Linked DNA regions of Homo sapiens. The protein of the gene in region 1 interacts with the protein of each later gene in a pairwise test. Each region holds a gene or a part of one and is shown on either strand. Other genes may lie near its edges. The genes, in order: ZNF620, NDOR1, EXOSC5, CINP, EAF1, BFSP2 and JRK.

Evidence for each region.
Region 2: the proteins of ZNF620 (region 1) and NDOR1 interact in binary tests that used the Homo sapiens proteins (3 or more experiments, as listed by UniProt).
Region 3: the proteins of ZNF620 (region 1) and EXOSC5 interact in binary tests that used the Homo sapiens proteins (3 or more experiments, as listed by UniProt).
Region 4: the proteins of ZNF620 (region 1) and CINP interact in binary tests that used the Homo sapiens proteins (3 or more experiments, as listed by UniProt).
Region 5: the proteins of ZNF620 (region 1) and EAF1 interact in binary tests that used the Homo sapiens proteins (3 or more experiments, as listed by UniProt).
Region 6: the proteins of ZNF620 (region 1) and BFSP2 interact in binary tests that used the Homo sapiens proteins (3 or more experiments, as listed by UniProt).
Region 7: the proteins of ZNF620 (region 1) and JRK interact in binary tests that used the Homo sapiens proteins (3 or more experiments, as listed by UniProt).

What each region holds. Positions count from the first base shown.
Region 1 is NC_000003.12:40,512,220-40,516,554, forward strand, and holds part of ZNF620 (zinc finger protein 620), read left to right. Parts: intron 1-182; coding exon 183-296; intron 297-3,640; coding exon 3,641-4,335. UniProt on the Homo sapiens protein: May be involved in transcriptional regulation.
Region 2 is NC_000009.12:137,211,371-137,215,705, forward strand, and holds part of NDOR1 (NADPH-dependent diflavin oxidoreductase 1), read left to right. Parts: intron 1-1,131; coding exon 1,132-1,229; intron 1,230-2,409; coding exon 2,410-2,508; intron 2,509-2,596; coding exon 2,597-2,698; intron 2,699-2,833; coding exon 2,834-3,043; intron 3,044-3,199; coding exon 3,200-3,321; intron 3,322-3,427; coding exon 3,428-3,648; intron 3,649-3,724; coding exon 3,725-3,832; intron 3,833-4,036; coding exon 4,037-4,151; intron 4,152-4,288; coding exon 4,289-4,335. UniProt on the Homo sapiens protein: NADPH-dependent reductase which is a central component of the cytosolic iron-sulfur (Fe-S) protein assembly (CIA) machinery.
Region 3 is NC_000019.10:41,390,624-41,394,958, reverse strand, and holds part of EXOSC5 (exosome complex component RRP46), read left to right. Parts: intron 1-1,978; coding exon 1,979-2,092; intron 2,093-2,996; coding exon 2,997-3,118; intron 3,119-4,335. UniProt on the Homo sapiens protein: Non-catalytic component of the RNA exosome complex which has 3'->5' exoribonuclease activity and participates in a multitude of cellular RNA processing and degradation events.
Region 4 is NC_000014.9:102,352,274-102,356,608, reverse strand, and holds part of CINP (cyclin-dependent kinase 2-interacting protein), read left to right. Parts: intron 1-711; coding exon 712-841; intron 842-4,335. UniProt on the Homo sapiens protein: Component of the DNA replication complex, which interacts with two kinases, CDK2 and CDC7, thereby providing a functional and physical link between CDK2 and CDC7 during firing of the origins of replication.
Region 5 is NC_000003.12:15,430,358-15,434,692, forward strand, and holds part of EAF1 (ELL-associated factor 1), read left to right. Parts: intron 1-1,729; coding exon 1,730-1,866; intron 1,867-3,990; coding exon 3,991-4,181; intron 4,182-4,335. UniProt on the Homo sapiens protein: Acts as a transcriptional transactivator of ELL and ELL2 elongation activities.
Region 6 is NC_000003.12:133,398,290-133,403,255, reverse strand, and holds the start of BFSP2 (phakinin), read right to left. Parts: upstream 3,201-4,966; 5' UTR 3,173-3,200; coding exon 2,684-3,172; intron 1-2,683.
Region 7 is NC_000008.11:142,659,512-142,663,846, forward strand, and holds part of JRK (jerky protein homolog), read right to left. Parts: 3' UTR 1-4,335. UniProt on the Homo sapiens protein: May bind DNA.

The DNA.
Region 1 (4,335 bases):
TTATTCTGGGACTCTGTGCCACTTTGTGGGAAATTTCTGTCCTCCAGCAGCATAGATTAAGTTTCTCCCTGACTCACCTTGTCTCTCACTACCTGGCTCAGCAGATAAAGATAAAGGGGGCTGCAAGAGGATCCTGGTTCCTGATTCCCCTTACCTTTTCCTGTTTCTTTCTCCCTGGGCAGCATTCCCATTCACCACGCCTGTTCTGGTCTCCCAGCTGGAGCAAGGGGAACTGCCATGGGGCCTCGATCCCTGGGAACCTATGGGCAGGGAGGCTCTCAGAGGTATCTGTCCAGGTGAGCATGAGAACCCACTAGCTGCCTTTTTGGCTTGGCTTGCTTTCTTGTTTTCACATTTCATTGTGCAAGAAGTGTTTCTTCTCTTGGGAGACTGTTTTTGTTCCTGTGGAATCATTACATGTGATTCTCTGAGTTCATGGTGGTAGCCTACCTCAACTGGGGAAGGGCCAGTCTCTTTTAAGACAGGAATGACTGTAAGATTTCTTTGCATATTCGTCTTTGCCTGTCCTCCTCACAACCTGCCAAGGGAGACTGTCTGATTGGGCAGCACTTAAACCAGCTCATTTCTTCTCTGTCACATGAAAACATTTTATTTTTCTGCCAGTTTGTTTTTGCAAAGATGAGGATGTCAGCCACCTTTGGAGGAAAATAGGCTTCTGGCAACATGGCTGGCCATCTGCATATCATAGGCTACATTGTTTAAGCACTGACTTAAAGAATAAAAAGTTTGTTTTTATAATGGAAATTTTCAAATATATGCAAACACCAGCATAATGCACTCCATGTATCCTTCATCCAGCTTCAACAGTCACAAATATCCTTTGATTCTTATTTCATCTTTCCCCCACAGATACTTAAAAAAATTTCTGAAGCAAAATTTATTGTAAATTAAAGGTGAATAACTTTCTCACTTCGATGGCTATTGATATAAGAATTAAAAATAGGCTGGGCATGGTGGCTCATACCTGTAATCTCAGCATTTTGGGAGGCTGAGGCAGGTGGATCACTTGAGGCCAGGAGTTCAAGACCAGCTTGGCCAACATGACGAAACCCCGTCTCAACTAAAAAAAAAAAAAAATATATATATATATATATATATATATATATATATATATGGCCAGGTGTGGTGGTTCATGCCTGTAATCCCAGCACTTTGGGAGACCGAGGTGGGTGGATCACCTGAGGTCAGGAGTTCGAGACCAGCCTGGCCAACATGGTGAAACTCCATCGCTACTAAAAATACAAAATATTAGCATGGACGTGGTAGCACGTGCCTGTAATCCTAGCTACTCAGGAGGCGGAGGCAGGAGAATCGGTTGAACCTGGGGAGTGGAGGTCGTAGTGAGCTGAGATCATACCATTGCACTCCAGCCTGTGGGCAGCAAGCCACCCAGGTGCCAAGGCAAGAGACTGAGGGCACAAGCTGTTCCAGTATAATAAAGAAAATATATAGAATAAGAATAATTATGCTAGAAATAGATTATAGATATGATTATATATTAATATTATTAATCATTAGTTTGTAGCATTACTCTTTATTCCAATATTATAATAATCTCTGTTCTACAATTATAACCTAGGAAAAACCAGGCCATACAGAGATAGGAGCTGAAGGGACACTGTGAGAAGTGACCAGAAGACAAGAGTGTGAGCACTCTGTCAAGCCGGGACAGGGCCACCAGAGGGCTCCTTGGTCTAGCGGTAATGCCAGTGCCTGGGAGGGCACCCCTTACTTAGCAGACCTTGGTCTAGCGGTAGCGCCAGTGCCTGGGAAGGCACCCGTTACTTAGCAGACCGGGAAAGGGAGTCTCCCTTTCCCCGGGGGAGTTAGAGAAGACTGCTCCACCACCTCTTGTGGAAGGCCTGACATCAGTCAGGCCCACCCGCAGCCATCCGGAGGCCTAACCATCTCCCTGTTGATGCTGTGCTTCAGTGGTCACGCTCCTGGTCCACTTTCATGTTCTGCCCTGTACACCTGGCTCTGCCTTCTAGAAGAAATAATGATGTAAGCTGTCCCCTCTCTCTCTCCGCCTCGGCTACCAAATAGGGAAGGGCCCCCTGTCTGGTGGACATGTGACTCGTGTGACCTTACCTATCATTGGAGATGACTCTCACTCCATACCCTGCCCCTTTGCCTTGTACATAATCAATAACAGCACGGCCAGGCATTCAGGGCCACTACCAGTCTCCGCATCTTGGTGGTAGTGGTTCCCTGGGCCCAGCTGTCTTTTCTTCTATCTCTTTGTCTTGTGTCTTTATTTCTACCATCTCTCGTCTCTGCACATGAGGAGAAAAACCCAGAGGCCCAGTAGGGCTGGACCCTACACCAGCCTGAGTGACAGAGCGAGACTCTGTCTCAAAAAAAACCCAAAAACATCAAAAATTAGCTGGGTATGGTGGTGTGCACCTGTAGTACCAGCTCCTGGGGAGGCTGAAGCATGAGAATCACTTGAACCCAGGAGGTGGAGGTTGCAGTGAGCCAAGATTGCACCACCACACTCCAGCCTGGGTGACACAGCGAGACTCTATCTCAAAAATAAATAAATACATAAAACATAGTATATTTTTTAATCTTTCTTATTCTGCTTCACCCATTCTCTGCCTGTGAAAATTTTCTGTGCTCTTCTGCAGAGAATGCCCATTACTGATCCACCCCCAAGTCTTGAGTTTAAGTTGTACCTTTCTGGATGTGACCTCAGGACCCTACGTCATCTGAGTAAAAATATTTTCTGAACAATTTTTTGTGAATGCATGCAGGCTGAAGATTTTACTTAGTCTGCAAAAGGTTTTGATAGTGGAGGGAATATTTCTCTTTGGTTTTCCCTTATTATCATGTGAGTTTAGTAGTTCACTTTTCAAACTGTTGTATTAAACAAATGCACAACCTATGAGACCTTTTAGGAAAAATGGCAAGCATCGTTACCAGGCCCTCTTTGGGACTTACATTCACTCTTGGAAGAGTTCTTCACATTTCCAGTGCTTTTTGGTTTTAAAGGCAAGCCTCCAAACCTTCCTTTCTCCTGGATGCTGTGGTGGTTGCCATGCATGGCATCCTCAACCACTGCATGGGAGCCTGCTGCTTTACTAGAGCCAGCTTGATGGTAGAGATCAGCTCTCTTTTCAAGGTTATGACATGCATGATGTCTTTTAACAAGCATCTCTTAAGGAATCTCAGCCTGTGGGACCTGTTGTAGTGCTTGAACTGCTCAGCCTGCCCCTTCTCTAATCTTGGGAGTCTTCCTCTCACTTATGGATTTCCATTTGTTACTTTTTTTATGTTTGCATCTTTATCCACCTCATTCATTTTTCTCTTAGTCTTTCTGCCCTAATTAACAGTCTTTGCAGTTTTCTGGTTTTCACACTGTTTATGGGAATGCCTCCTGGCCTTGCTTCCCTCCCGTCTCATAGAGTTTTCATGTCCCTTGCAGGGCTCTGTTGTGTGGTGATCTTAGGCAGCCATCTTGTGAGCATATTAGAAAATATCCATATATTCAGGGCAAATTAGAACCACTTGATTCTGTTTCTTCTTCAGCACAGATATTGTGTGTGTGTGTGTGTGTGTGTGTGTGTGTGTGTGTGTGATATCAGGGACTGACATTTGTATTTTCTTTTTGTGATAGGGGATGAGGCCAGAACTGAGAAGGAAGGATTAACTCCAAAGGATCATGTGTCCAAAGAAACAGAGTCCTTCAGACTGATGGTGGGGGGCCTGCCAGGGAATGTTTCCCAGCACCTTGACTTTGGGAGCAGCCTAGAGCAGCCACAAGGTCATTGGATAATTAAGACAAAGTCAAAGAGGAGACATTTCACAGATACCTCAGCCAGGCACCATGAGGCCTATGAGGTCAAGAATGGAGAGAAGTTTGAGAAATTAGGAAAAAATATTAGCGTCAGCACACAACTCACTACAAATCAGACAAATCCTAGTGGTCAGATATCTTATGAATGTGGACAATGTGGCAGATATTTCATTCAAATGGCAGACTTCCACCGACATGAGAAATGTCACACTGGTGAAAAGTCTTTTGAATGCAAAGAATGTGGAAAATACTTCAGATATAACTCATTACTTATTCGGCATCAGATAATTCACACTGGAAAGAAACCATTTAAATGTAAAGAATGTGGAAAAGGTTTAAGTTCAGACACAGCCTTGATTCAGCATCAGAGAATCCACACTGGAGAAAAGCCCTATGAATGTAAGGAGTGCGGCAAGGCCTTCAGTAGCAGCTCTGTCTTCCTCCAGCACCAGAGGTTCCACACTGGGGAGAAGCTCTATGAATGTAACGAATGTTGGAAAACTTTCAGTTGCAGC
Region 2 (4,335 bases), on another chromosome or scaffold:
TCACTGTGGGTTTAGCCTCTGGGGACAGAGTGCCCTACACACCCCAAGGGCAGCAAGTGGGGCCCTGGCTTTTCAGTGGTGGTGCCAAGCCCAGGACAGACCCAGCCGCATGCCAGTCGAGTGAGGGAAAAGTCACAAGAATGTTCTCTCCAGAACCCTTTTCTCGGGAAGGAGGAAGTTCACCAAACGGAGCAGGGAAGAGAGTCTTTTGGGATTCAGGAAGCAAGGGTGTCTCAACAGCAGGGCGCTAGGGAGGGTCTCGGGGGCAAGAGGCTGGGTACATTTGCTCGCATAGCGTGGCCCAGAGAGGCAGCTGATGAGGCAGTGAGGTCCCGGGAGGCCAGGGGTGGTCCAGGGCCAGGGTCAGAGCTGTGGGCTGACAAGGCCAGGGCCTCCCTGTCTGCTAGCCTCCATGCTTGGCCACGGGAAGGGGAGGTGGGTGGGCGGCGAAGACCACGCACACAGGCCACCTGGGATCCAGGTAGGGAGGGGGCAGTAGGTTCCTTGGGGGGGCCTCTGATCAAGCTGGGAGGACACCGTGGAAGGCACGGTGTGGAACCAGAGGATCTGGACCCTGTTGGCTCGAGGTCCTGCAGCCACGGAAGGAGGGGGATGTGTCTCAGCGACACTGGAACCTCAGAGGGCCGAGTGTGAGAGCCCTTGGGATGGACCTCAGAGGTCTGAGTATAGGAGCCTCTGGGACAGACCAACTCAGGGAGTGGAGGCCCACGCTCTGGCTGGGAAATGACAGGTGGAGGTGAGGGACCCCTGGGGCGGTGGACAGTTTGGAGACCAAGTGCAGAGCTGCTCCTGGCAGCTCAGAGCCTGGGGCAGAGGAGGGTGATGTCCCAGGAAGGAAGCTCCACGCAGGCCTGTAGAGCACAGCAGGGTCTGGCTCCTGTGGGCAGGGTGGGACCTGGTCTCCCTAGACGCTGGACCAGCCCTGCCTCCTCCCGGTGCCCATCATCCTGCAGGCTGGACCTGGGCCCTGCCTTTTGGTCAGATAGGTCCAGTTGTATTCTGCCCCCATCCTACCCACCTGCCTGTTCCCCTGAGACCCTCCCCTCACCCCCTGCTGTGGGGCTAGCCTAGAGGTCGAGGACTCTGACTCAGAGTTTCCTCCGGCTGTAGAACTTCTGGAGGTTTATATTCCGGAAGAACCTGCCCTCCACTGCCCTCTGTCAGATGGACTTTGCCGTCCTGGGCCTCGGGGACTCCTCATACGCCAAGTGAGTAGGGGATGGGACAGTGGGCGGACGGAACAGTTCTGGGGGTCGAGCAACAGGTGTGCTGGCAGAGGACCGAGACCAGCTTCCAGGGTCGGCCCCTGCGCGCCTCAGGGCCCTCGCAGTGGTACTGGCTTCTCCACAACGCTCCCTGGTGGGCACCCCAGGCTTCACGCTGCGGGGAGGGCACAGAGGGGAGCAGGCAGGGTGGCAAAGGGCTGGGCTCCAGCCACGCTGACGTCACACAGGCCTACCTGGCGCCGGTCCCCACTTTTACAAAAAGGCGTGCTGTGAAGTGTTGACGACTTTGAGCCTGGAGGAGGACCCCGTATGCTCCTGCCACCCCAGAGGCCACCTCTGCCTTTTCTCCTGGGCATTTTCACAGTGCTCCTCTGCACCCTAAGCAAGGAGTGGCATGTTCAGTGTGCAAATGGCATCTTTAGACCCCACAACGGTGAAAACCCCGACTGTCCACGTAGGGCCCAGGTCCGCTGAGCACCGAGCATCAAAAGCCGTTTGCATAGCCAGGTGTCAGTCATTTCAGATGAAAAAGAACGGGAAGATCGGAGACAGCTCCCCCCGGTTCTGCCGGGAGGTTTTGTTCCGTGCGTGACGTAGGTCCGTGCATGACGTTGTTTCCTGCGTGACGTTGTTCTGTGTGGGACACAGTGTTCGTTCAAGAGAGGGAGGGAGGCCGCTGCCGACAGCGTTCCCAGGGAGGAGCGTGACCCAGAGCCAGTCATGCCTCGGAACCAGAGTGAGAAGAGAAACTGACCCCCGGGAAGATGCCTGGCTCTCTCCCCAGCACAGAGTTTCTCAGCTGAGGAGTGACCCACATCTTGGCTGGGGGCCTGGAGGCCTCAGCTGCCTCAAGTCCCTGCCCAGGGATGAGGGCCCATCAGTGGGACGAGGCCGCCTGCTCCCACCCACACAGGCTCATTCTCTGCGAGCAGAGGACCTGCTGCTTGGCACCCTGGCAGCTGCCCTGGTCTCGGCAGCCCCTGGCGTGTGGAGGCCCTGCCCCCTCCTAGGGTGCGGCCAGCGTGGAGTGTGTTTTCCACCCGAGGGAGGCCCTCCCCAGGCTCCACTCTTCGCCCGGGCTCCACTCTCCCGGGTTCCACTCTGCCTGGGCACCACTCTCCGCCCGGGCTCCAGCCCAGGACCAGCCTCACTGTCTCCACAGGTTCAACTTCGTGGCCAAGAAGCTGCACCGACGGCTACTGCAGCTTGGGGGCAGCGCCCTCCTGCCCGTGTGCCTGGGCGATGACCAGCATGAGCTGGGGTGAGTCTGCGGGCGTGGTACCCGCCTCCACAGTCTGGTCTGGCCACACGCAGGGTCCGCTCAGGCCAGCGCACGTGCTCCCTCCCAGGCCCGACGCTGCTGTGGACCCCTGGCTGCGAGACTTGTGGGACAGGGTTCTGGGGCTGTACCCGCCGCCTCCGGGCCTCACTGAGATCCCTCCCGGAGTCCCGTGAGTGTGGGCCCCGGGTCACCCACAGGCGCAGCAGACCCAACCTGGCCTGGGGACCTCGCCCTGGGTCCCTCCCGTGTGGGTGGGCGGCCCCTGGGGAGTGGGTCCTGGTCTGACCAGCGTGCCCTCCCACAGCCTGCCCTCCAAGTTCACCCTGCTGTTCCTCCAAGAGGCACCCAGCACGGGCTCTGAGGGGCAGCGGGTAGCTCACCCCGGCTCTCAGGAGCCCCCGTCAGAGTCGAAGCCCTTCCTAGCACCCATGATCTCCAACCAGAGAGTCACCGGCCCCTCCCACTTCCAGGACGTTCGGCTGATTGAGTTTGACATCTTGGGCTCTGGCATCAGGTGGGGACTGCTGGGGACCGAGGAGGGCAAGGTGAGGTGGGCCGTGGGTCTGGGGTTCGGAGGAGGCTGGGCCGGGCTGCAGGGGATGACTTCTATCCGGGGCCCCGACATCCTCCCTGCGGCGTCCCCACAGCCCTGGTGGCTTCTTCCACACAGCTTTGCTGCTGGTGATGTGGTGCTGATTCAGCCCTCCAACTCGGCTGCCCATGTCCAGCGGTTCTGCCAGGTGCTGGGCCTGGACCCTGACCAGCTCTTCATGCTGCAGCCGCGGGAGCCAGGTGAGCCCAGCCTCGGCCACCCTGACTCTCTGCCCTCTCCCGTGCCCTGGGCCCCCACCCCAAGGGCTCCGCCGCAGCCCACGGAGGCCTCCCACTCACCCTGCAGATGTCTCCTCCCCCACGAGGCTGCCCCAGCCCTGCTCCATGCGGCACCTCGTGTCCCACTACCTGGACATCGCCAGCGTGCCTCGCCGCTCCTTCTTCGAACTCCTGGCCTGTCTATCCCTCCATGAGCTGGAGCGGGAGAAGCTGCTGGAGTTCAGTTCTGCCCAAGGCCAGGAGGAGCTCTTTGAATACTGCAACCGGCCCCGCAGGACCATCCTGGAGGTGAGATGGGAGGGCGGCAGGCCCAGCCCCTGAGCTACAGCCACGCTGCAGCCACCCTGAGACTCTCTTTGCCTAGGTGCTCTGTGACTTCCCGCACACAGCTGCCGCCATCCCTCCCGACTACCTGTTGGACCTCATCCCCGTTATCCGGCCGAGGGCCTTCTCCATCGCCTCCTCGCTGCTGGTGAGGGGCCTGGTGGTTGGAGCCCAGGACCGGCCCTGGGAAAGCTGGGACCGGGGCTGTGGGGTTTTGTAAGCAGGGGCTGCCCTCTGACCAGGTGACGTTCCCCCAGTCGGACTGCCTCTGCGGGAGGTAGGTGGGGCCCACGGCCCAGGCACAGGTGAGGGCAGCCTTGTTCCACCACCCCCACCCCGCCGTCCTCCCCAGACTCACCCCTCACGGCTGCAGATCCTCGTGGCTGTAGTGCAGTTCCAGACTCGCCTCAAGGAGCCCCGCCGGGGCCTCTGCTCCTCCTGGCTGGCATCCCTGGACCCTGGGCAAGGTGACCCCTGCTCCCAGGGTGGGGGCCGTGGGCCCATATCCCCTTCTCTCCCATGCTCATGCAAATGCTGGGCTAGGGCCCCAGCAGACTCAGCACAGGTCTTTGATCCTCTTCATGCCACCTCCTTCCTGCAATAGGACCTGTCCGGGTGCCCCTCTGGGTGCGGCCTGGGAGTCTGGCCTTC
Region 3 (4,335 bases), on another chromosome or scaffold:
GGGTTCAAGCAATTCTTCTGCCTCAGCCTCCTGAGTAGCTGGGACCACAGGTGCGTGCCACCGCGCCCGGCTAATTTTTGTGGTTTTTAGTAGAGACGGGGTTTCACCATGTTGGCCAGGCTGATCTTGAACTCCTGACCCTGTGATCCACCTGCCTCAGCCTCCCACAGTGCTGGGATTACAGGCGTGAGCCACCTCGCTTGGTTGAGGTCAGGAGTTCTGAGACCAGATTGGCCAACATGGTGAAAACCCATCTCTACTAAAAATACAAAAATTAGTCGGATGTGGTAGCACGCACCTGTAATCTCAGCTACTCTGGAGGTTGAGGTACAAGAATCACTTGAGCCTGGGAGGCGGAGGTTGCAGTGAACTGAGATTGCGCCACTGCACTCCAGCCTCCTGGGTGACAGAGGGAAACTCTGTCCCAAAAAAGAAAATAGAGACAGGAGTCTTCCTATGCTGCTCAGGCTGGTCTCAAACTCCTGGCCTCAAGCAGTCCTCCCACCTGGGCCTCCATAGTGCTGGGATTACAGGTGTGAGCCACCATGCCTGGCCTAAAATGTATTTTTTTTTTTTTATTGAGACTAAGCCTTGCTGTTATTGTCCAGGCTGGAGTGCAATGGTGTGATCTCGGCTCACTGCAACCTCCGCCTCCCCGGTTCCAGCAATTCTCCTGCGTCGGCCTCCCAAGTAGCTGAGATTACAGGCACCCACCACTATGCCCAGCTAATTTTTGTATCTTTAGTAGAGATAGGGTTTCACCATGTTGACTAGGATGGTCTCAAACTCCTGACCTCAGGTGATCCACCCACCTCAGCCTCCCAAAGTGCTGGGATTACAGCAGACAGTACTAGAAGCCAGGCTGTTTATTTCTTAGGTTTTACCTCCTGTACCCCGTTCATAGCTTCTGGGGAAATAAGGAATCAGGATTCATTCCAGATATTATCCCTTTCTCAGGTGTCCAGACTGATGCAAAATTTGGGGGCCAGTGCCTAAGGGAAGAGCTGGGCTGGGGAAGCTTTGGAAAGAGAAGTTGAGAGCAGCTGCAGTAAGAGGGAGGATGGTTAGCTTTCAGGAAGAACTTCCTGTTAAAAGTTACTAATACCAGCCGGGCACAGTGGCTCACGCCTGTAATCCCAGCGCTTTGGGAGGCGGGCAGATCATGAGGTCAGGAAGTTCGAGACCAGCCTGACCAACATGGTGAAACCCAGTCTCTACTAAAAATAAAAAAATTAGCCAGGTGTGGTGGCGCGCGCCTGTAATCCCAGCTACTCAGTAGGCTGAGGCAGGAGAACTGCTTGAACCCGGGAGGCAGAGGTTGCGGTGAGCCGAGATTACGCCACTGCACTCCAGCCTGGGCGACAGAGCAAGACTCCATCTCATTAAAAAAAAAAAAATTACTAATATCAGGGCCAGGCGTGGTAGCTCACGCCTGTAATCCTAGCACCTTGGGATTACAGTTGCCCAGGAGTTCGAAACCCGCCTGAGCAACATGGCAAAATCCCCTCTCTACTAAAAATATAAAAATTAGTCAGGCATGGTGGCACATGCCTGTAGTTCCAGCTACTTGGGAGGCTGAGGCGGGAGGATCACTTGAGCCCAGAAGGTCAAGGCTGCAATGAGCCGTGATGGCACCACTGCACTCCAGCCTGGGCAATGAGAGTGAGACCCTGCCTGAATGCCTGAATGGACGAATGTTACTAATACAGCTAAAGTCTGTTGCACATTCAGCGTGAGCCCCGCAGTGTTCTAAGTGTTTTCTGTGAATTGTGTCCTTTGATCCTCACAAGACGCTAGCGGGGAGGGACTGCTATTTTCCCCATTTTACAAATGAGAGAAATGAAGTGAGTGCTCAAAGAATCAGTACCAACAAATGGCGGGGGTGACGTGGGGAGCCCTGGCCGTCAGGCTCAGTGCCACAAATGGGGCCCCAGGAGCAGGGAAGCTGTGAGTGAGGCCCTCCCTGCTGTCTCCTCAGGTGACACCTCTGTCCTGGCGGGTGTGTACGGGCCGGCCGAGGTGAAGGTCAGCAAAGAGATTTTCAACAAGGCCACACTCGAAGTGATCCTGAGGCCGAAGATTGGGCTGCCTGGTAATTGGGCCCTGCTGAACCTCTGAGTGGTGCCCAGTTTGTCAAAATCACCCCCCCAGCTCCTCCCTACCAGCTGCCCCGAGTCTCCACTCCCCGCTTGGGTCTCCACTCAGCTGTTTCTGTCTTTAACTCTCCGCCTCTAATTAATAACTCATCTTCTGTTGCTTCTCTCTCTGCCTCTAATTTCTCCCTCCCTCTTTTCTCCCTCTCTCTGCCTCCACTCTCATTCATTCCATTAACCTGTTTTTCTTTTATTTATTTTTATTTATTTATTTTTTTTTTGGAGACAGTGTCTCGCTCTGTCACCCCGGCTGGAGTGCAGTGGCACGATCTCAGCTCACTGCAACCTCTGCCTCCCAGATTCAAGCAATTCCCCTGGCTCAGCCTCCCGAGTCGCTGGGATTACAGGCACGTGCCACCATGCCCACTAATTTTTTGTATTTTTTTAGTAGAGATGGGGTTTCACCATGTTGGCCAGGATGGTCTTGATCTCCTGACCTCAAGTGATCCGCCCGCCTCAGCCCCCCAAAGTGTTGGGATTACAGGCGCGAGCCACTGTGCCTGGACCATTAACCTGTTTTTCCACCCTTTTACCCTCATATCCCTCAGTCCCCACTGACTGGACCTGCTAGGGTGGGAGTGGGCGTGGGTAGCAGCACAGACATGGAACTCCCAGGTCTTCTTCCCTTGGATGGTTCCCTTGGTGGATGCTGGAGGTAGCAGGGGTCAGTGGATGGCAGTCAGGCCTTGCCTTCTTCCCACTGGAATCTTCCATCATCCCTGCAGGTAACTGCACCATCCCAGGCTGAGACCGTGAGCCCTTTCTGGGAATTTGGGTGAGGCGTATGGAGGAAGGTGAGTCAAATGAAGGGGAAGACCCTGAACCTCTCTTCAATTTCCCCAGGTGTTGCAGAGAAGAGCCGGGAGCGGCTGATCAGGAACACGTGCGAGGCGGTGGTGCTGGGCACGTTGCACCCCCGCACCTCCATCACCGTGGTGCTGCAGGTTGTCAGCGATGCCGGCTCTGTATCCTTTCTGCCAGGCCTCCTCCTCCAGGAAGTCTCCTGATTGCTTCCCTCCTGGCGGATACATATACCCTCACTGCTAGCCAGAAAGCCTTCAAACACTTGACAGGTACCAGCTCACTGAAGAAGGAGAGCAAACAGCCTGGGTGCTTACTTATGTGCCAGGCACTGTTCTGTGTGCCTTATGCACATTAACTCATGTAATATAGCACATGCCCTTATGATCCCCGTGGAAGTGGCAGAGCCAAGACTTAGACCCAGACCGTCTAGTTCTAGAGCCCACGGACCCTGGCAGATGAGTGTTCTTATGTTCGCATGTTTCAGGTGACAAAACTGAGGCCCAGAGAGGGGAAGGGGCTTGCCCAAGGTCACACAGCTGGAAGGCAGCACAGGCAGGACTCAAGCCCAGGCCAGTCTGACTCCAGAGCCTGTGCCAATCACTTCTTTTGTTTTTTGGGTTTTTTTGTTTGTTTTTGAGACAGGCTCTCACTCTGTCACCCAGGCTGGATGCAGTGGTGCAATGTCAGCTTACTGCAACCTCTACCTCCCGGGCTCAAGCGATTCCCATGCTTTAGCCTCCTGAATTACAGGTGGAATTACAGGTGCCTGCCACCACGCCAGGCTAATTTTTGTATTTTTAGTAGAGACGGGGTTTTGCTGTGTTGGCCAGGCTGGTCTCGAACTCCTGACCTCGAGTGATCAGTCCACCTTGGCCTCCCAAAGTGCTGGGGTTACAGGCATGAGCTACTGTGCCCGGCTGGCAATCACTTCTACTCGGCACCTCAGTGGATTTCAGGCCCTCAGTGCTGGGGGCGCCCTGAGCAGACAGCAGCTGAGTCAGGAGCGTGGCCTTGTAAGATCTCCATGTCTGAGGTGCGAGAGGTTGAGGTTGAGGACTAGAATTAGACACTGTAGAAGGCTTTACTGGAACGTGGCCCTGAACTGGACAGACATTTTATGGATGGGCAGAGAGAGAAGGTATTGTGACCCCATTTTACAGAAGTGGAAAGTGAAGCCCAGAGGAAGGCGTGGAGGATCAGCAGCAGAGCTGGAACCGGTTGACTAAAGCTGTGGTCTTTGTCTGGCTGCTAGGCCTGGAGAAGAAACACATTAGGAAACTGAGGCAGAGCCAGCTGACTCCCAACCTGTGCTCTCTTTCCACTGTGAGCTTCCTGCAGGCAGCAGCGAGGTGGCTCTTCCTCCATTGCCCTGCCAGCT
Region 4 (4,335 bases), on another chromosome or scaffold:
AAACCTTCAATTTGTAAAAAATGCATTATCTATGAAACTGAATAAGGTGAAGCACAATAAAATGAGGCGTGCCTATATTCCTGGATTGTGAACTCTTTGAGGAAATGATCCATGTCTTATTCATCTTTGTACATCCAGCACCATGCCCTATGCCAAGGATGCCACACCGCTGAATGGTGTTTTTTTTTTTTTTGAGACAGTCTTGCTCTTTTGTGCAGGCTGAGTGCAGTGGTGCTATAATGGCTCACTGCAGCCTTGACTTCCTGGGCTTAAGTGATCCTCCCACCTGAGCCTCCTAAGTAGCTGGGACCACATACGTGTCCCACCATGCCCAGCTAATTTTTACTTTTAATTTTTGTGGAGATGAGGTCTCACTGTGTTGCCCAGGCTGGACTCAGACTCCTGGACTCAAGCAGTCCTCCCGCGTCCATCCCTCAAAGTGTTGGGATTACAGGCATGAGCCACCAAAACCGGCTGTCACATGGCTGAATTTAACTGACTTATTTTGGTGCAAAATTGAGTGACCAATGGACATATTCATTGCACATATAAATAATAACTGCATTTGTATCATAATGATATGAAAGAACAATGCTTATGCAAAATGTCCCACGTAACTATGTGGATATAGAGGTTTGTAGAATTTATTATAAGGAAATAAGGCAAGCTTAAAGAGTATATTTTGTACACATTATTTTCTATTTTGTTTAGGAATAAAGACAAGATAGAACTAGACAGCAGCAGCCCAGCCTCGAAGGAAAATGAAGAAAAGGTGTGTCTGGAATATAACGAGGAACTGGAGAAGCTGTGTGAGGAACTGCAGGCCACCTTGGATGGGTTGGTAAGACATAAAGACGCAGGCCACTTGTGGTCACTGTCACTGAATCCGATGGACGTATTTGGGGTTTGCTTGACCATTGGCCATCACTTACTCCTTCTCAGTCTCCTCTGATGTTCTCTTCCTCTGCCTGCTGCGTAAACCTTAATGTTCCCCAAGATGCTGTCTTAGACACTCACTCCTCCTGTGCGTCATCCGGGGAAATGTCACCCACTTTCAGGGCTCATCACATAGTAAATTTTTTTTTTTTTTCCATGATATGGAGTCTTGCTTTGTCGCCCAGGCTGGAGTGCAATGGCGTGATCTTGGCTCACCGCAAACTCCGCCTCCTGGGCTCAAGCGATTCTCCTGTCTCAGCCTCCAGAGTAGCTGGGACTACAGGCGTCCGCCACCATGCCTGGCTAATTTTTGCATTTTTAGTTGAGACAGGGTTTCACCATATTGGTCAGGCTGATCTCAAACTCCTGACCTCAGGTGATCCACCTGCTGGCCTCCCAAAGGGCTGGGATTACAGGCATGAGCTACCACGCCCAGCCACAGAGTAAATATTTTAGGCTTCCAGGGCCAGCCAGTCTCTATCTCAGCTACTCATCTCTGCCACATAGGACTAAACAGCCATAGATAATATATGCGTAAATGGATGTGGCTGCATTCCATGAAAACTTTATCTTTGTTTTTTGGATTTTCTTTTTTTTTTTTTTTGAGATGGAGTCTCATTCTGATACCCAGGGTGGAGTACAGTAGCATGATCTTGGCTCACTGCAAACTCCGCCTCCCAGGTACAAGTGATTCTGCTGCCTTAGCCTCCCAGGTAGCTGGGATTACAGGCTCGTGCCACCACATGAGCTAATTTTTGTATTTTTAGTAGAGACAGCATTTCACCATGTTGACCAGGCTGGTCTCGAACTCCTGACCTCAAGTGATCAGCCTGCCTTGGCCTCCCAAACTGCTGGGATTACAGGCGTGAGTCACCGCACCTGGCCTTTTTTGTTTTTGTTTTTGTTTTTTTTGAGACAGGGCCTCACTCTGCCACTGAGGCTGGATGGAGTGCAGTGGCGAGATCTTGGCTCACTGCAACCTCCGCCTCCTGGGTTCAAGCAATTCTTGTGCCTCAACCTTCCACATAGCTGGGATCGCAGGTGTGCGCCACCATGCCCAGCTAATTGTTGTATTTTTAGTAGAGATGGGGTTTCACCATGTTGGCCAGGCTGGTCTCGAAGTCCTGGCCTCAAGTGATCCACCCACCTCAGCCTCCCAAAGTGTTGGGATTACAGGCGTGAGCCACCATGTTCGTCCAGGAAATCTTTATCTTTGGACACCGAAATTAGAATTTTGTATAATTTTTATGAGTCACAATCACTATTGTCCTTTTGGTTATTTTCAACCATTTAAAAATGTAAAAACCATCTTAGCTTATGGGCCATACAGAAATAGGCTATGGGCCAGAATTGACCTGTGTTCCAGGGATAGTTTGCCCATCCCTGATACAGCACGTAAGAGACTAAAGTGTTTGTTTAATGAACTAATAACTAAATTTCAATACCTACCATACTGGCCACCAGATGTGAAGATAACACCACCTTATTTCTTTGCTAGGCACAGGAAATCAGGTTTTACACATATTTGAACTTGGATAACTGAAGCTTACCCATAAACATTTAAGATCTTTATATTTTCACCTTTTTGTTTGTTTGGAGACAAGGTCTCGCTGTGGAATGCAGTAGTATGATCACAGCTCACTGCAGCCTTTACTTCCTGGGCTTAAGTGATCTTCTTGCCTCAGCCTCCCGAGTAGCTGGGACTACAAGCATGAACCATCATGCCCGGCTAATTTTTAAAATTCGTTTGTACAGACGGGGTTCTCATGTTGGCCAGGCTGGTCTCGAACTCCTGACATGAAGTGATCTTCCCACCTTGGCCTCCCAAAGTGCTGGGATCACAGGTGTGAGCCCTGGCGCCCTGCCTTAGCTTTTCCGTCATGTCTTGTTTTGGCTTCAGGATCCTGTATGACATCGAGTCCCCTTGTTTCCTCAGGCTCCTTTTGGCCGTGACAGTTTCTCAGACTTCCCTGTTTTTGATGACTTTGACAATGTTGAGGGATACTGGTCAGGTATTTTGTAGAACATCATGAGATTTATCTGATGTTTTTCTCCTAATTAGACTGAGGTTACGGGTTTTGTTCAGAGGAGGACCACAGAAGTAAAGTGCCATTTCTATCATGTCATATCAAGGGCACGTACTGGATATACTGTCATCAGGACTTTTCTTTGGGTCCCACCTATTGCCCGGGCTGGTCTCAAACTCCTGGGCTCAAGCAGTGCTCCCACCTCAGCCTCCCAAAGTGCTGGGATTCCAGGCGTGAGCCACTGTGCACAGCCAGGACTTTCCACTGCTGAAGTTGACCTTGATCACCTGGCTGGGCAGTGTTTCCAGGTTCCTCTGCTGTGACGTTGCTCTTTCTCCTCCTCCCACGCTGTGCTCTTTGGCAGGAAGTCACTATGCATAGCCCACACCTGGGGGTAGGGACGTATTCACCACCTGCTTGAGGGTGCAGTATCTACATAAATTATTTGGAATTATTCTGCGTGGGAGATTTGTTCCCTCCCTCCCATTTGTTAATTTTTTTTTTTTTTGAGATGGAGTTTCACTCTTGTTGCCCAGGCTGGAGTGCAGTGGGGTGATCTCTGCCCACTGCAACCTCTGCCTCCTGGGTTCAAGTGATTCTCCTGTCTCAGCTTCCCAAGTAGCTGGGATTACAGGTGCCTGCCACCACACCCAGCTAATTGTTGTATTTTTATTTGTTTTTTTTTAATTTTTGTTTTGGCCAGGCGCAGTGGCTCATGCCTGTAATCCCAGCACTCTAGGAGGCCGAGGCAGGTGGATCACCTGAGGTCAAGAGTTTGAGACCAGCATGGCCAACATAGTGAAACCCCATCTCTACTAAAAATACAAAAAATTAGCTGGGGGTGGTGGCAGGTGCCTGCAATCCCAGCTACTTGGGAGGCTGAGGCGGGAGAATCACTTTCGGAGGTTGCAGTTAGCCGAGATCAAGCCACTGCACTCCAGTCTGGGCCACAGAGTGAGACTCCGTGTCAAAAAAAAGAAAAAAAGAAAAAGAAAAGTGGTTTGGGAATAAGTTCTCATTCTATGTTCAAAACCAAAAGTTGATTTTATAGGGTATTATTATTTTTCCTATTTTCCTCTATCCGTTATAGAGAATGGTTTCCAGACCTGGTCTGTGTCTTTCATAACTTTGACCTTCTGGGGGTTTCATGCACCGTTCTTCCTAAGCTGGGCTAACATTTCACTGTGGTCTGTGTTTGCTGTGGGAAGAAGCCACCGATGTTGAAATGTAAGGGCCTGCTGTTTATGCACTGTTCATTCAGGGCTGCACGTGCCTATGTGACTTGAATTCTTTATTGATGGCTGAGCTGCAGGATTGAGCATGACTTCTTGCCTGGGGTCAAGGCTCCAGAATTTTCCTTAGTCTCCTGTTA
Region 5 (4,335 bases), about 25 Mb from region 1:
GCGGAGCTGGGAGGATCGCTTGAGCCTGGGAGGTAGAGGTTGCAGTAAACCAAGATCACGCCACTGCACTCCAGCCTGGGCGACAGAGTGAGACTCCCCCTCAAAAAAAAAAAAAAAAAGATTATTCGTCGTTTTCCCCAATCTTCCTTTTCCCCCATCTGCTACTGAGTAGACAAGGTTCCTGTCTGGACACCTAGCCCCTCTTTTAGATATAGCTTTTCTCCCAAGCAACTCCAGACAGAAAAGCCCTAGGTGCCCTGCTGATTATATGGCCACAACAGCTCAGGAGTGTGAGGCAACCAAGCCAGGAGTTAAGGCAGGCAGGAACCACAGGTGTGGCACATTCAGCTGATTTAGGGATGAAGAACTAAATTGAAAGCTGGATTAAGAACCCTTGCAGAGAAAGACTTTTGTGAAGCTCTGCCCAAGGCAGCACTAATGACAAAGCACCAAAGGGTCACATGATGCTCTTAGTGAACATGTGTTATTGCATGTCACACCCCTGTCCTGGAACATAAGTTCTCGGTAGCTGGAGACAGAATGAAAAGTCTCTGGACAGGGAGATCTGGAAAGCTTTGTGGTGAGGAAAAATTGCCCATTCAAACTGCTGTTTGATTACTTGTTACCTTTGGCAAGTTACATCATCTCCCTTTGGACCTTAGTTTCCCATATGTAAAATGAAAGGTTTAGAAAAATGGTCCCTAAAGTTCTTTCTAGCTCTATATTTTTACTATATAAATAAGGAGTCAAAGAGCCAAGCAGTTTTTTATTCTAAGCAAGGCATTAAATATGATATTCAACAAATATTAATCAAATGCCTCCCACACATTGGCCCATTACTAGGCATGAAGTATATAACCTTGAACAAAACAAGCACATTTCTTGCCCTGGTGGAGCTTATGGTCTGGAGTTTAAATTAATACAAGAAAATATAGCAGTTATTCTACAAAATCAGGGACAGCTTCCTTAAGGAAGTATCTGTGAGCAGATCTGGAGGTTGGGTCATTTAAAGAGAGGGGGCAGGATATAGCTGGCAGAAGCCTTGTTAAAGCTGGCAGAAGCCTTGTTAAAGCCCAGAGGCAGGAGAGAGCTTGAGGATAGGAGGGAAGCCAGTTGCCTTCTGCTCTGAAGCACATGCGCAGGGGAGTATGCTGCAGGGTGAGGTGGAGAGCCAGGGAAGGGCCCGGTAGTGCAAGGCCAAGTGGCTAGTTTAAAGATTTTATCCTTTGGCCTGAGAGCAATTGAGGAGTGATTGAAAGGCTTAGGCAGATGAGTGACATGATTTATTTATTCTGAGCCAACCAGGATAATGACCTTCTCTTGGAAAATGCTCTGTTGGTTGCTTGACATGAGAAGGGGAAACCCTGGTCTCTCTAATGACAAAGAAATAGAGATCACTCACAGTTTTACTATACAGAGTGATAACTCTGCTTAGTATAATGAAAGTAATGGTTAATTTTTCTCTCTTGGAACGTATATAGTAATTAAAACTTTTATACTACCTTTTTGATTACTTAGAACGCGTTGCACATTCACAAATTCTTGCTATATTATTTCTCCTTTATTTTTGCCTCGGAAACCAGAAGGAGATAAAATAGAAATCAGTTCAACCTGTTCTTTTTGAATAGCTCTGATAAAAGATTTCATCAGGTGGAGTCATCTATAAATTCAGTTGATATTCATAACTGGTATGTTTAGTTTGATCATCTTATACTTTTGTGGCAAATAGGGATCCACACCACCCATGACTGTGTTCAAGGGGAACAAACGGCCTTACCAGAAAGACTGTGTGCTTATTATTAATCATGACACTGGTGAATATGTGCTGGAAAAACTCAGTAGCAGCATTCAGGTGAAGAAAACAAGGTATGTGAATAGCCAGATGCAGGTTTATATCATGTTTCCAAACCTCTGTTATCTATTCAGTTTTTATAAGGTTGTGAACATCTGCTTGCTCATAGTGTTCTATCAATAATCTTAACACTACCTGTGCTCAGACAAAATATGTAAATATGTGCTCAGAGTAAAATATGTCTTCCTCAAATGCAATAAAAAGAAATAATGTTTTTTAAGACCTAAAACATGGGAACCATTAGGGAAAGGGGGATATACTTTATAATTAAGCCTATTTTGTTAATCTCATGATTGCTACAGTACCACCTAAGGGATAAGATAACTTATAGACTTATAATTATGAAGGAGCAATATATACTATACTTAACTGGAGTGAAAACATTAATTTTTTTACAAGATACATTTGAGATTACTATAATACCAAAATAAAACTTTGCCTATTTTTTAATATAGTGAACTCTTTAATTCAACAGTTGCTACATGTCTAAAATGAAGCCAGTTAGAGTTTATTTGAAAATAAAAATTCATTCTATAAATAGAAATAACCTAGTGGTTCTATTTGTTACCATATAATACAGTATTTTTTTTTTTTTAAAGAGTCGAGGTCTCTTGCTGTGTCACCCAGGCTGGAGTGCAGTGGCATAATCATAGCTCACTTATAATACAGTAATTATTATAATACAGTAATTAAATTGTAAAGATTGTCACAACCTGATGTTTTTTATGCTTCGTTAAGCCATTTTTTTTTCATTCATTCATTCCACAGAAAATAAAAATAGGTACCATTTATTGAGGGGGTATCATGTCCCAGGCACTCTGCTAGATGCTTTATATGCATTGTTTTATCTAACAAGTAATTTTTAGAAAGGTGTTATTATTATTTTTTACTTCTTTTGTTAAAAATATGGAATTGTTCATGAGTTTGTGTGTCATCCTTGCACAGGGGCCATGCTAATCTTCTCTGTATCATTCCAATTTTAGTATATGTGCTGCCGAAGTGAGTACGAAAGGTGCTATTATCTAAAAAAAAAAAAAAAAAAAAAAAGGTACGGAGACTGAGGGTTAGAGAGCTTGACCTACCCCGGAGAGTGTGCTGCAGAGTCCTTGCTCCTGTCCTGCCACTCTATTTATTTGTATTCATTACCTACAGTGAACCAGGTGCTACCGATATTCCTCCAATATCTGATGGTTGTGGTATATTCCCTTACTACTCAGTGTGATATGGGAACTAACAGTATCATATTACCTAGATGATATGCAGAATCTCAACACCTATGAGATCTGAATCTGCAGAGATCACCAGGTGATTTGTGCATAAGCAAAAGTTTTAGAAGCACTAGGCTAGTCCATTTACAAAAGAAATTGTTAACTGATAGAATATTCTCAGCTTGGGATGGAATTCTGCTTGTCTGCCAGCAAGAGCTGGCATGTGATGAAATGAACAAGCAGTATATAGATAATGGAAAAAATTTTCAAGCTGGGCAATATTTTAGGAGCTACTTTATTTAGGAACTCATGCACTCATGATTATAATTACATAATGATGTTTTGGTCAGTAGTGACCTACATATATGACAGTGGTCCCTTAAGATTCTAATGGAGCATGTATGGAAACCTGATATACGGCACTTGATATTGGCATTGCAGATCAAGTAGGGGGAATGACTGATATTCAATTATGGTGGTGGGACATTTGGGTTTTCATGTGAAAAAATTATATGCTATATTGGTTTGCATAAGTACATTCTGCTGTTTGCATGATGAAATCACCTCATGATGCAGTTCTCAGGACTTACCCTCATTGTTAAGGGATGCATGAATGTATTTTCTACTAGTAAAATGGATTTTCATAGTTTCATTATATCCTACATTTGTTTGCTATACATTTGAGCTCATCGAGGGCAGTAAATATTCTATTCATGTCTGTATCCCTGATACATAATATAGTACTGGATTACAGTAGACACTCAAATGTTGAATGAATAGCTCACATGACAAAATTACAAGTATCAGTATTTTGAAGTGGTCTGGAAAGAACATGGGGTTCTACAGAGACTTCTGAGTTTTCAGTCACCTGGACAAATTTGAGAACCACTATTTTTGCCCTGCTAATTTAATGTCTGTATCTCCTTTCAGAGCTGAGGGCAGCAGTAAAATCCAGGCCCGAATGGAACAGCAGCCCACTCGTCCTCCACAGACGTCACAGCCACCACCACCTCCACCACCTATGCCATTCAGAGCTCCAACGAAGCCTCCAGTTGGACCCAAAACTTCTCCCTTGAAAGATAACCCCTCACCTGAACCTCAGTTGGATGACATCAAAAGAGGTAGAGAACATTTTCTGGATCCATGATAGCAACTTGGAGTAGAGTGCTGAATTTTCTTGTGGAGATCACATGGCTGCTGTATTGATACAGTGGCTGGGGCATTCAATGCCATCAAAAAAATGTCTGCAGAGCTCACTGTTCAGAGATGGGGAGG
Region 6 (4,966 bases), about 93 Mb from region 1:
AGAGTGGCCTAAGTGAGGGCAGAGGGAGAGAGCTCTGGATTTCTGGGGCCCAGGACCGCAGAGTGGCTGCCTCTGACCCCAAGTGAGATGAAGGCAGCGTGTTGTGGAAGGACTGGGCTGGGAGGTGGCCTTTCCTCTAGGCCTGGAAAGGGGTGGGGGCCTGGTGGGGGCCTCCTGCAGCTCCACGAGGCCAGATTCACTGAAAAAATCAGGAGCATTTCTCAATTATGGAGTTTTCTTTTGTTCTTCTTGATGGAATAGAGTTTAATATGGCTGAAAGGCTGGGCTGTGCAATATAGAAAAAGTAACTCCAGGCTGGGCATGGTGACTCACTCCTGTAATCCTAGCACTCTGGGAGGCAGAGGCGGGTGGATCACCTGAGGTCAGGAGATCAAGACCAGCCTGGCCAACATGGTGAAACCCCATCTCCATTAAAAATGCAAAAAAATTAGCTGGGCGTGGTGGCGTGCACCTGTAATCCCAGCTACTCAGGACGCTGAGGCAGGAGAATTGCTTGAACCCGGGAGGTGGAGGTTACAGTGAGTTGAGATCGCACCACTGCACTCCAGCCTGGGTGACAGAATGAGACTCCATCTCAAAAAAAAAAAAAAAGAAATAATAACTCCATTTTATCAATTGGTCTTACTCTATCTTCAAGTCCATGATTTTTTAAAAAAGAAGAAAAAGAGAACTTTATTCATACCCAGGCCCTCATTTATAGTCACTTAAGAGGAAAGTGAGCCCATGTGGGATCCTGACCCTCAACTACAGAGGTCGCATGTCTTGGTGTGTGGCTGTGGTGCTCTCACAGGATTTTAGAGCTTCCTAGTCTGTACTCTACCTGTAAGCAGGAGCCAGGCTCTTATTTGTCTACAGATTTGCTGGAATATGTAAGCATTGTTATACCCATTTTGTAGATAATGAAACTGAGGCCCAGAGAAGTTAGTAAGTTGCAAAGGCTCTTGTAGCTATCTGGAGCCAGAACAAGTCAGTATCTATTGAGTATAAACTAAGTTTTGTGGCCCTACTTTTTAACCTAGCCATTGGGATACCTGATTTCTCCTGACAAGTCTGTGTGGCATCTGATTGCAAGCGATTGTCCAGCAGATGCTGACATATTGGAGTATCTAGGGATGTTCTGGTGGTTGTTATGGCACAATATTTGGAATAAGGACAGTTGTGAAGAATCCTGGAGGAATGGCTGCCTCTTAGATTTGACAGGCGTTAAGGCCCTGGACTGTTCTAAGATGGCTCTCCCTTGCAGCCCAGATGGATGCAAGCAGAACAGCAGCACCAGGGGGAGAGCCTGAGAGGATGGTGCTGTTCATCATGCACTCTGTGCTGTCAGTGGGCACTGACAGCAGTGCAGGAGAAGCATCCTGGGATGAAGTGGGAGGCAGGAGGGGCAAATGGGGAGTCCCTGTGTGCAACTGCTTAGCTTCCCCCAGCTATACACAAATAAAATTTTGTGACCTCCTCTTGGGAGGCTGCATACTGGACTCCAGGGGGCCAAGGGTCTGAGTTGGCAGTCCCTGGTGGGTTAGAGACTGATTTTGCTCAGAGGGATCCCAAGGCCAGCATCTGGAGAGAAAGAGGAGGAGGAGAGGTGAAGCCAGCTATCCACAGAGAGACCAGCTGAGAGGTGTAATGCTGGCTGGAGTCCCAGCATTAGAACTACAGGCTGCAGGCCAGACATGATGGATGTGCTCCAGACTCCGCAGAAATCACCCTGGAGAGTGGGAAAAGCAGGGCTGACCAAGCAAGGGAGAAAGATGAAACCTCTGCATCCTTCCCTGTCCAATAAGATAGCCATTAGCTACCTGTGGCTGTTTACATTTAAATTAATGAAAATTAGATAAAATAAAAATGCAATTCCTCAGTCTCATTAGCCACATTTCAAGTGCTTGATAGCCATATATGGCTAGTGGCTGCCAGATTGGACAGTGCAGATATAAGATATTAATATTTCCATCACGCAGAAAGCTCTACTTGAATGTAAATTACCTCATTAATATATTTTGTATTGATTACATGTTGAAATAACATTCTGGACATATAGAGTTAAATAAGCTATAATATTAACTTCACCTGCTTCTTTTTACGTGTTTTACTGTGGGTAATAGAAACTTGTCAATTACCAATGTAGTTCATATTTCTATTGAACAGCGTGGTTGTAGGTGGATACAGGAACACACCTCCATTTATTCATTGTTCTTAACACCTCATCCATCCAATGGTATTTGATTGGATAATAGCTGTAAAAATCCCTTCTCAACAGTAAAGGTGACTGAGGCAGCCCCAGGGTAATGGGGCAAATGCAACTTTGGAGGCACAAAAATTCAGGTTCAAATCTCATCTCCATCCCTCTACTAGCTTTGAAGTCTTGGGCAAATTACATGCCTCAGTTTCTCATCTGAAAAATGCAATCAGTGAATGATCCACTGCATAGCATTTCTTTGAAGTTTAAAGAAGACAGTGGGTAGTGCACGTATGGGGGCTAGCGTGGGCTCCTAGTAAACCTCGGTAAAAGGTAGCATTGTTGTTATCATTACCATTTTAAGTGTGAAAGTGTAGGGGATTATGGTCAGTTTCTCTGGCCTCAGCCTACTCACAACCCTACCCGCTGCCTTCAGCAGCCCCTCCCAGCCCTCTGCAAAGCCCTTGGCACAGCCTGGACACTTACCTGCTGGCAGCTGCTGGCCCAGGAAGCCCGTAGGGCACCCCAGTTTCCCGAGCGTGTGGCTTTGCTCTCCAGGTGCATCCGCAGTTGTGTTTCCAGCTCCTGACTGACTTGCTCAAGGGCGTGCACTTTGGCCATATATTCCACCAGGCAGCCCCCTAGGTCCTCAACAGCACCATGGTCCCTCTCCAAACCTGGAGCCGGCACGGTGGCCAGGCCTGAGCTCCGCAGGCCCTGAAGGAAGACACTGCTGATGCCGAGGGCCCGGCGGGTCACACGGGCACCCAAGCCACCTATGCACCCACTGGGTGCTGTTCCTACATAGACCCCGGGTGCTCGGACAAGGCCACTCATGGCATTGGTCCTGGAGGCTGGGGGGCTCTCCAGGGAGGATGATGACCGTGGCCCCCTGAAGGACGCCCTGCGCCTCTGGAGGGGCATGCTGGAGCTGGCACTGGTGGGCAAGTCCACTACCACTCGCCTCTCACTCATCACCCCTTCTGCCTCTGTGGTGCCCAGTGGGTTTACAGAGTCCAGTGGCTTTTGGTTTACAGCCCCAGCATCCCTGTGGCCTGGTCACGGGCCTCTCTGGAATCTCCCCTATCCCTGGGGCTGCTTTGTCTGCTGTCTTCCATGAGTTTCCATCATTCACTGAGCTGAAAGAGAAATGGGCACTGCCCAGGGCTGTGTGCAGAGAGGCACTCATGCATTCTTTGATGCAGGGTCATGTGCCCAACCTCCCAGATTATTCTGCTGGTGGTGGGGGAGGCTGGATCAGTGCAGGCTGTGGAGGTAGACCATTTGGGTTTGTGCATTTTACTACCTAAGTGGGCAAGGCAGGCATCAAGCAACCCCATTTTACAGATGAGTAAACTGAGGCTCAAGGACCTCAGATGACAAGTGTACTGATCACTTGCCCCAGACCTCAGATTACAAGCTAGGACTCAATCTAGCTATTTCAGGGCTTTCTACATCCCTATGTGTGCTGGCACATGTGAATGTGAACACATGTCCACACAGGCAATAGAGGATGAAAAATGGCAGGAGGCAGCTCCAGGGACCCAAGAGAAAAGACTTGCCTATGGTTTCCTCTCTCAGTCCTGGCAGCAGCTTCAGGTCCTTCCCTCACCTCTCTCCTTTCCTCCTCATCTCTGTCCTCTAATGCTCTGCTGTTCATCAGCTGCTTGCTGTTGGCCAGGATGCTTCCTCCCTCTGGACCTCACTGTCTGAACATTGGCTTGGGCCTTTAACTCTCTGATGCACCAGATAAGGACCTTGGGCAAATTCAGATCCCACACATGTTCCGGCCATTCCCTACACCTCTGCTTCTCCATCTGTTGGAAAACTGAGAAATAAAAACAACAACGAGGGTGTTTTCTGGTAAGCCTCTCCAAGGGTGCCCCAAGTTAGGATATGATGACACCCCTGGGTTTTAATTATTGACCTTGGCATCCACTAAGCCACCAAGGGTCACACCTCAATCACTTCTCTAGGATCAGAAAGGTTCCCCCAGTTACAGGATGACAACATGGACCTAAAAACCTCTGTACATAAGTTTTACCCTGGAGAAACCAGGTCACCAAACCCCAGAGCTGGATACTTTTCCAGATGCTGTAATGTAGGAATGTACCTCAGGTGAGAGAAGGAGAAGGGAGTCAATCTCTAGTGAGTAGCAGATCCAGCCTGGTGTGTGCATGAATCCTATGGTTTATTTCGTGGAATTCTCAACTCAACCTCAGGAGGAAGGAGGTCCAGGGTTGACAGGTACTGCCATATGGGCTGTGTACCTCACAGCTCTAAAATGACATGTCCTACAGTTGGCCACTGTCCTCTTATGTGAGGAGGACCCCGAGAGCTGCAATGACTTGCCCAAGGTTCTATGTCCAGAAAGTAGCAGAGCTGGGGGCAGACAACCTCTTCCAAACTCTGGGCCACTGACTTACTTAGGAGCCTCCCTGTTGCCCACCACCCAGAGAGCAGAGTACCTACCTGAGGTCACGCAGGTAGAGGTAAAAAACCTGGTCGCCTACTAGAGGACCCTGTGTGCACTTCCTTCCTACTGACCAGGACACTCCAACCCTTCCTTTCTTTATTGTCTTCCACTTTGTCTCTCTGAGATGGCCTGGGAGGTATTTTATAAATATCAGTGTTGGCTATTTGATGAACAGATGAAAGAACCAATTGGATTAAGTAAAGGCCAGTAGTGTCCTTGTTTATTCAGATGTAGCATTAATGCTGTGAACACCACCCCTGATGCACCCAGAAGGGGCATGCGAGCCTGTGTTA
Region 7 (4,335 bases), on another chromosome or scaffold:
CATGGCCAGTGGGCCTCCCACAATCTGCCCCTGGGTGCAGGGCCTTGAGCAGGGAGGCCATCGTGCTGCCTAAGAGACCAGGACCCAGCAGGGGCCATACCCAGATTCAGAGGCTCAGGACCACCACGGAACTGAAAGGAGGTTCAAGGCCTCAAACAAGAGTGGCCCCTAAAACAGTTGGTAAAGGAGTGTTTTCACCTCTGTTTACAGTTGAGTGCACTGCTCAAGGTCATGCAGCTGGTGAACAGCAGGGAGTGAGCAGTGGAGAACGTGAGGCTGGTCATTAGGAGCAGGTAGCCCTGGGTCTCCCTCTGCCCTCAGCAACTTCACACCTGCCCCTCCCTGGGCCCCAGTCTCATCCCTAAACAGGAGTGACCCCACCTCATTTCATGTCATCATCACTGCCCTGCAAGGGAAACAACAGATGTGCAAGGTCTGAGGGTCCATGTGTAGAAGCAGAGGCCAGAGCTGACACCACATGGGCAAAGGAGTGGGCGTGTGGGGCTGGGAGCTGGGGCTCATGTGGGAGGCTGGTGGCTGCCATGGCTGCAGCTCCTGGCCCTGCGGACAGCCAGGCCTGGGGTCTACAAGAGCTGGGCAGGGAAGAGGACAAACAAGGTCTCACAGGTCCATTCTCCCCAGCCTCCCAGTAGGCAGCTGAGTCCAACGCAGTGCCCGAGAGCTCAGCCCTTGTCAAGGAGAGTCCTCGAACCCAGAGGGGGCTGGGTAAGCAGCAGAAGTGCAGAAGCCCTGCCCAGGCCCTGCCTCCCAGGCCACCACCCACCCCTCACGGCTGCCACACCCACCAGCCCATGACTGTCCACATCCTGACCCCTACCTACCTCATGACCTCCCCGACCCTGATCTCCACACCTGACCCCAAAGCACATTTTGTTATTTTTTGTTTTTAGAGATTAGGTCTCTCACTCTGTCACCCAGGCTGGAGTGCAGAGGCCATAACTCACTGCAGCCTCAAACTCCTGGGCTTGGGGATCCTCCCGCCTCGGCCTCCTGAGTAGCTGGGGTTACAGGCACATGCCACCACACCTGGCTCATTTTCTTTTACTTTCTGTAGAGATGGGGTCTCCCTATGTTGCCCAGGCTGGTTTCAAACTCCTGAACTAAAGTGATCCTCCTGCCGTGGCCTTCCAGAGTACTGGGATTTCAGGCAGAAGCCACCACACCCGGATCCCCAATAAGCACATTTATGTGGGGCGTGAGGTGAGGTCCCTGAGGTGCAGTGTGGACGGGTCTTGATTTGTCCCAAGTTGTCGCTGCCCTGTGCCACAGCCTCCCAAGAATGGATGCAGTCTACACCTTCTGCAAACCCCTGCCTCAAACCGTGTCCCTCCACAAGCACATCCAGCCACTGGGACCCTGAACCTCCTCCAAATGGACTTTAACTGGGGACAACTGATGACAGTCCTCCAACCCCAGCGAGCTGGGGAAGCCGTGGGCAGGGGCTGCGACTTCCTTTCTTCCAATCAACTCCACCACTAGCAATCAATCACTTGGCCCACTGGATAAGAACAGTGGCCTGCGACGTCAGGGGCAGTCCAGGTGCTCTCCATCGCATGCTCAGCCATGGCTGAGCACGAATGAAGCATATGGAAGTCACGCACAGACAGGCCCAGGGCAAGGTCTGCTCTAGACCCTCCTATGCAGGAGACAGACAACTTCCAGGACAGCGTGCCTGGGGTGCTCGCAGAAGGCCAGGCTGGCACAGGCAGGACAGGTGTTCTGTAAACCAACCCCAACGTAGAAGGGGCTGAAAGACCACCTACCCATCCTAACCCCTGAATTCACCATGCCACCCTGAAAGTATGGCCTCTCCTGGGCATCCCGAGGGATGGGAGCTCCCAGAGTGGAGGCTGCCTGTCCCGAGTGAGGACACAGGAGCGCCCTCAGGCCTGAGCACTCAGGGGTGCCACCCCAAAGATGAAGGCAGTGGTGGAAAGAGGTTCTATTAGCAGGCTGGAAGCAGCCACAGAGGTCCCAAACCATATGACGCAGCACCTGCTACCCCACGAGCCACTGGAAAACTGAGGCTGCAACTTGCAGGGGCACTGTGAGAAGACAGGGAGTGGCTCCAGCCTGGTGCTCACAGATAAAACGCGGAGGCATTTAAACAGGACCAGAGACTTTCTCGCTCTGCTCTGGCAAGCTCCAGGGCTTCCCAGGGGCCTCAGCAGCCCCAGAAACAGAGTGAAGAGACACAGCCTCACAGAGCTGTGCTGTGGTGTCTGGTACAGCGGGGCTCCACCTGAGAGGGCTTGGGGAAAAAGATTCTGAGGCTAAAACATTCAACCACTTGAGCTTCTGAGACGGGTCAGGAAGTGAAAACAAAGTGCTCGGAGGACACGGCAGTCTCCATAAAGCGTTCTGGGGGACAGGACCGAGGCAAGAGGTATGCACCAGGCAGCTGGGCCCAGCAGCTCAGAGATGAGTACGCTCTGGGCTCCCTAAAAACCTCACTCCAGCAGCGAGCCCAGGTGAGGAGGGGCTGCAGGAGGAGCAGGGCCCGAGTCCCCTGGGTGGCACAAGGGATTCCAGCCACAAGGGCTGCACCTAGAGTCAGGCTCCAGGCCTTGCTGCAGTTGGTCTGGAAGAGGGGCACCCTGAGGACACAGCCACTCACTGGGGACAAGCGCCTACCCATCAGCCCAGCACAGTCAGCACAAGAGCAGATCAAGAACGGGAAGAGCTCAGGTCCTGAAGAGCTACAGTCTGACAGGGACAAGCCATGTCCAGAGGACTCAGGAGAGCCAGCCAGGAGCTCGGCCAGCTGGCCTGCCCATGCCCTCCCCAGCTCCACCCACCCAGGATGTCCTACTGTTTCAGAGCCCTCGGGACATGTTCTAACCTCCTGTGTTGCCTCAAGCAGCTGCAATCCAGCAGTCTTGGTTAAGAGGCTCTATTAGGAGTGACACGTGAGCCCAGAAATGGCACAAAGTACATGATGTGCAGAAGTTCCCCAGACAATGAAGCAAACAGTGCGGGTGACACCACAAAGACAATGGGACACAAATGGGAACTGGGACTGTCGTTCAGCACCGAGATCTTTAAAAACTATTTGGCTTTTATAATCTTCACACATGCATTCAAAGCAAGAAACACACACTTCCAGGACATAGATAGGGCTCTGTCAGCAATGACTTTTGCCCCTGTATCTACAGAGATGTGAAAGTACGAGAAACCACAGCGAGCCAAATCCTCTCCTTCATGAGAACAGAGGTTTCAGTGGAATCAACAGCAGACGCTGGAATGCAAACTACGTGCTGACTCGGCCAAATGATATGAATTTAAGAGAGGAAAAGAATTCAAGGGCAAAGCACTGAAAATAACATAGCAAGAAAAACCTATTTAGGCCGAGTGCTGTGGCTCACACCTGTAATCCCAGCACTTTAGAAGGATGAGGAAGGAGGATCGCTTGAGGCCAAGAGTTCAAGACCAGCCTGGGCAACACAGTGAGACCCTGTCTCTACAAAAAAAATAAAAAGGCGCGGTGGTGCGTGCCTCTAGTCCCAGCTACTCAGGAGGCTGGGGCGGGAGGATCACTCAAGCCAGGGAGGTCGAGGCTGCAGTGAGCTGGGATCACACCACTTCACTCCAGCCTGGTCAACAGAGTGAGACCCTGCCTCAAGAAAAGAAAAGGACAATGCACCTATTTTATGCTCGCTGAAAGACGAGGCTAATCACTGTGGACACAGGGCGTTCTGGAATCTCAGCTGCAGGCAGTGAGTGTTGCCCGTGAAATGGAGATGCCGCAAAGCAACTACAGACATGGAGAAAATAACCACATCCTCTTACAACCGCCTCTGTGAAAACTGACCAGGACAGACAACTCCTCCCCAAAAGTATTACTAACGTGCTAACAGCTGGGGATAAGAGCACACATACTGCTAGAAATCTAAGCAGCCTGTTTTACTGTTTTCAGTGACTTACGTGCAAACCTAAGACTAATCTCTGAATGTCTGATCAAGACGTATTCATGTAAAGGCCATAAGTATGAAATTCTGGGCAACATGGTACATTGGACTCTGAGCCAAAATGCCAAAATACCACACAGGGTCCGTGTCCTCTATCCGGGTGATGAGCAGGGCCTGGTCAGCCACTCCTACTTTCTTCCCAGAAAGGAACTCTACCAAGTCAACTCTCCGTGGGGCCCCCCAACATCTTGGGGCCAGAGCCCATGGGACAGGATCTGCGGGTAACAGAGGATGGTTCCAGAGTCATTCTGCTGAATGAGGCCACAACTGAAGTGAGATGTGCGGCCTGTTCAGCCGCTAGCAGGCCAAGAACTGAGTCCCAGCTCTCGGGCCATCGGACCTCAGG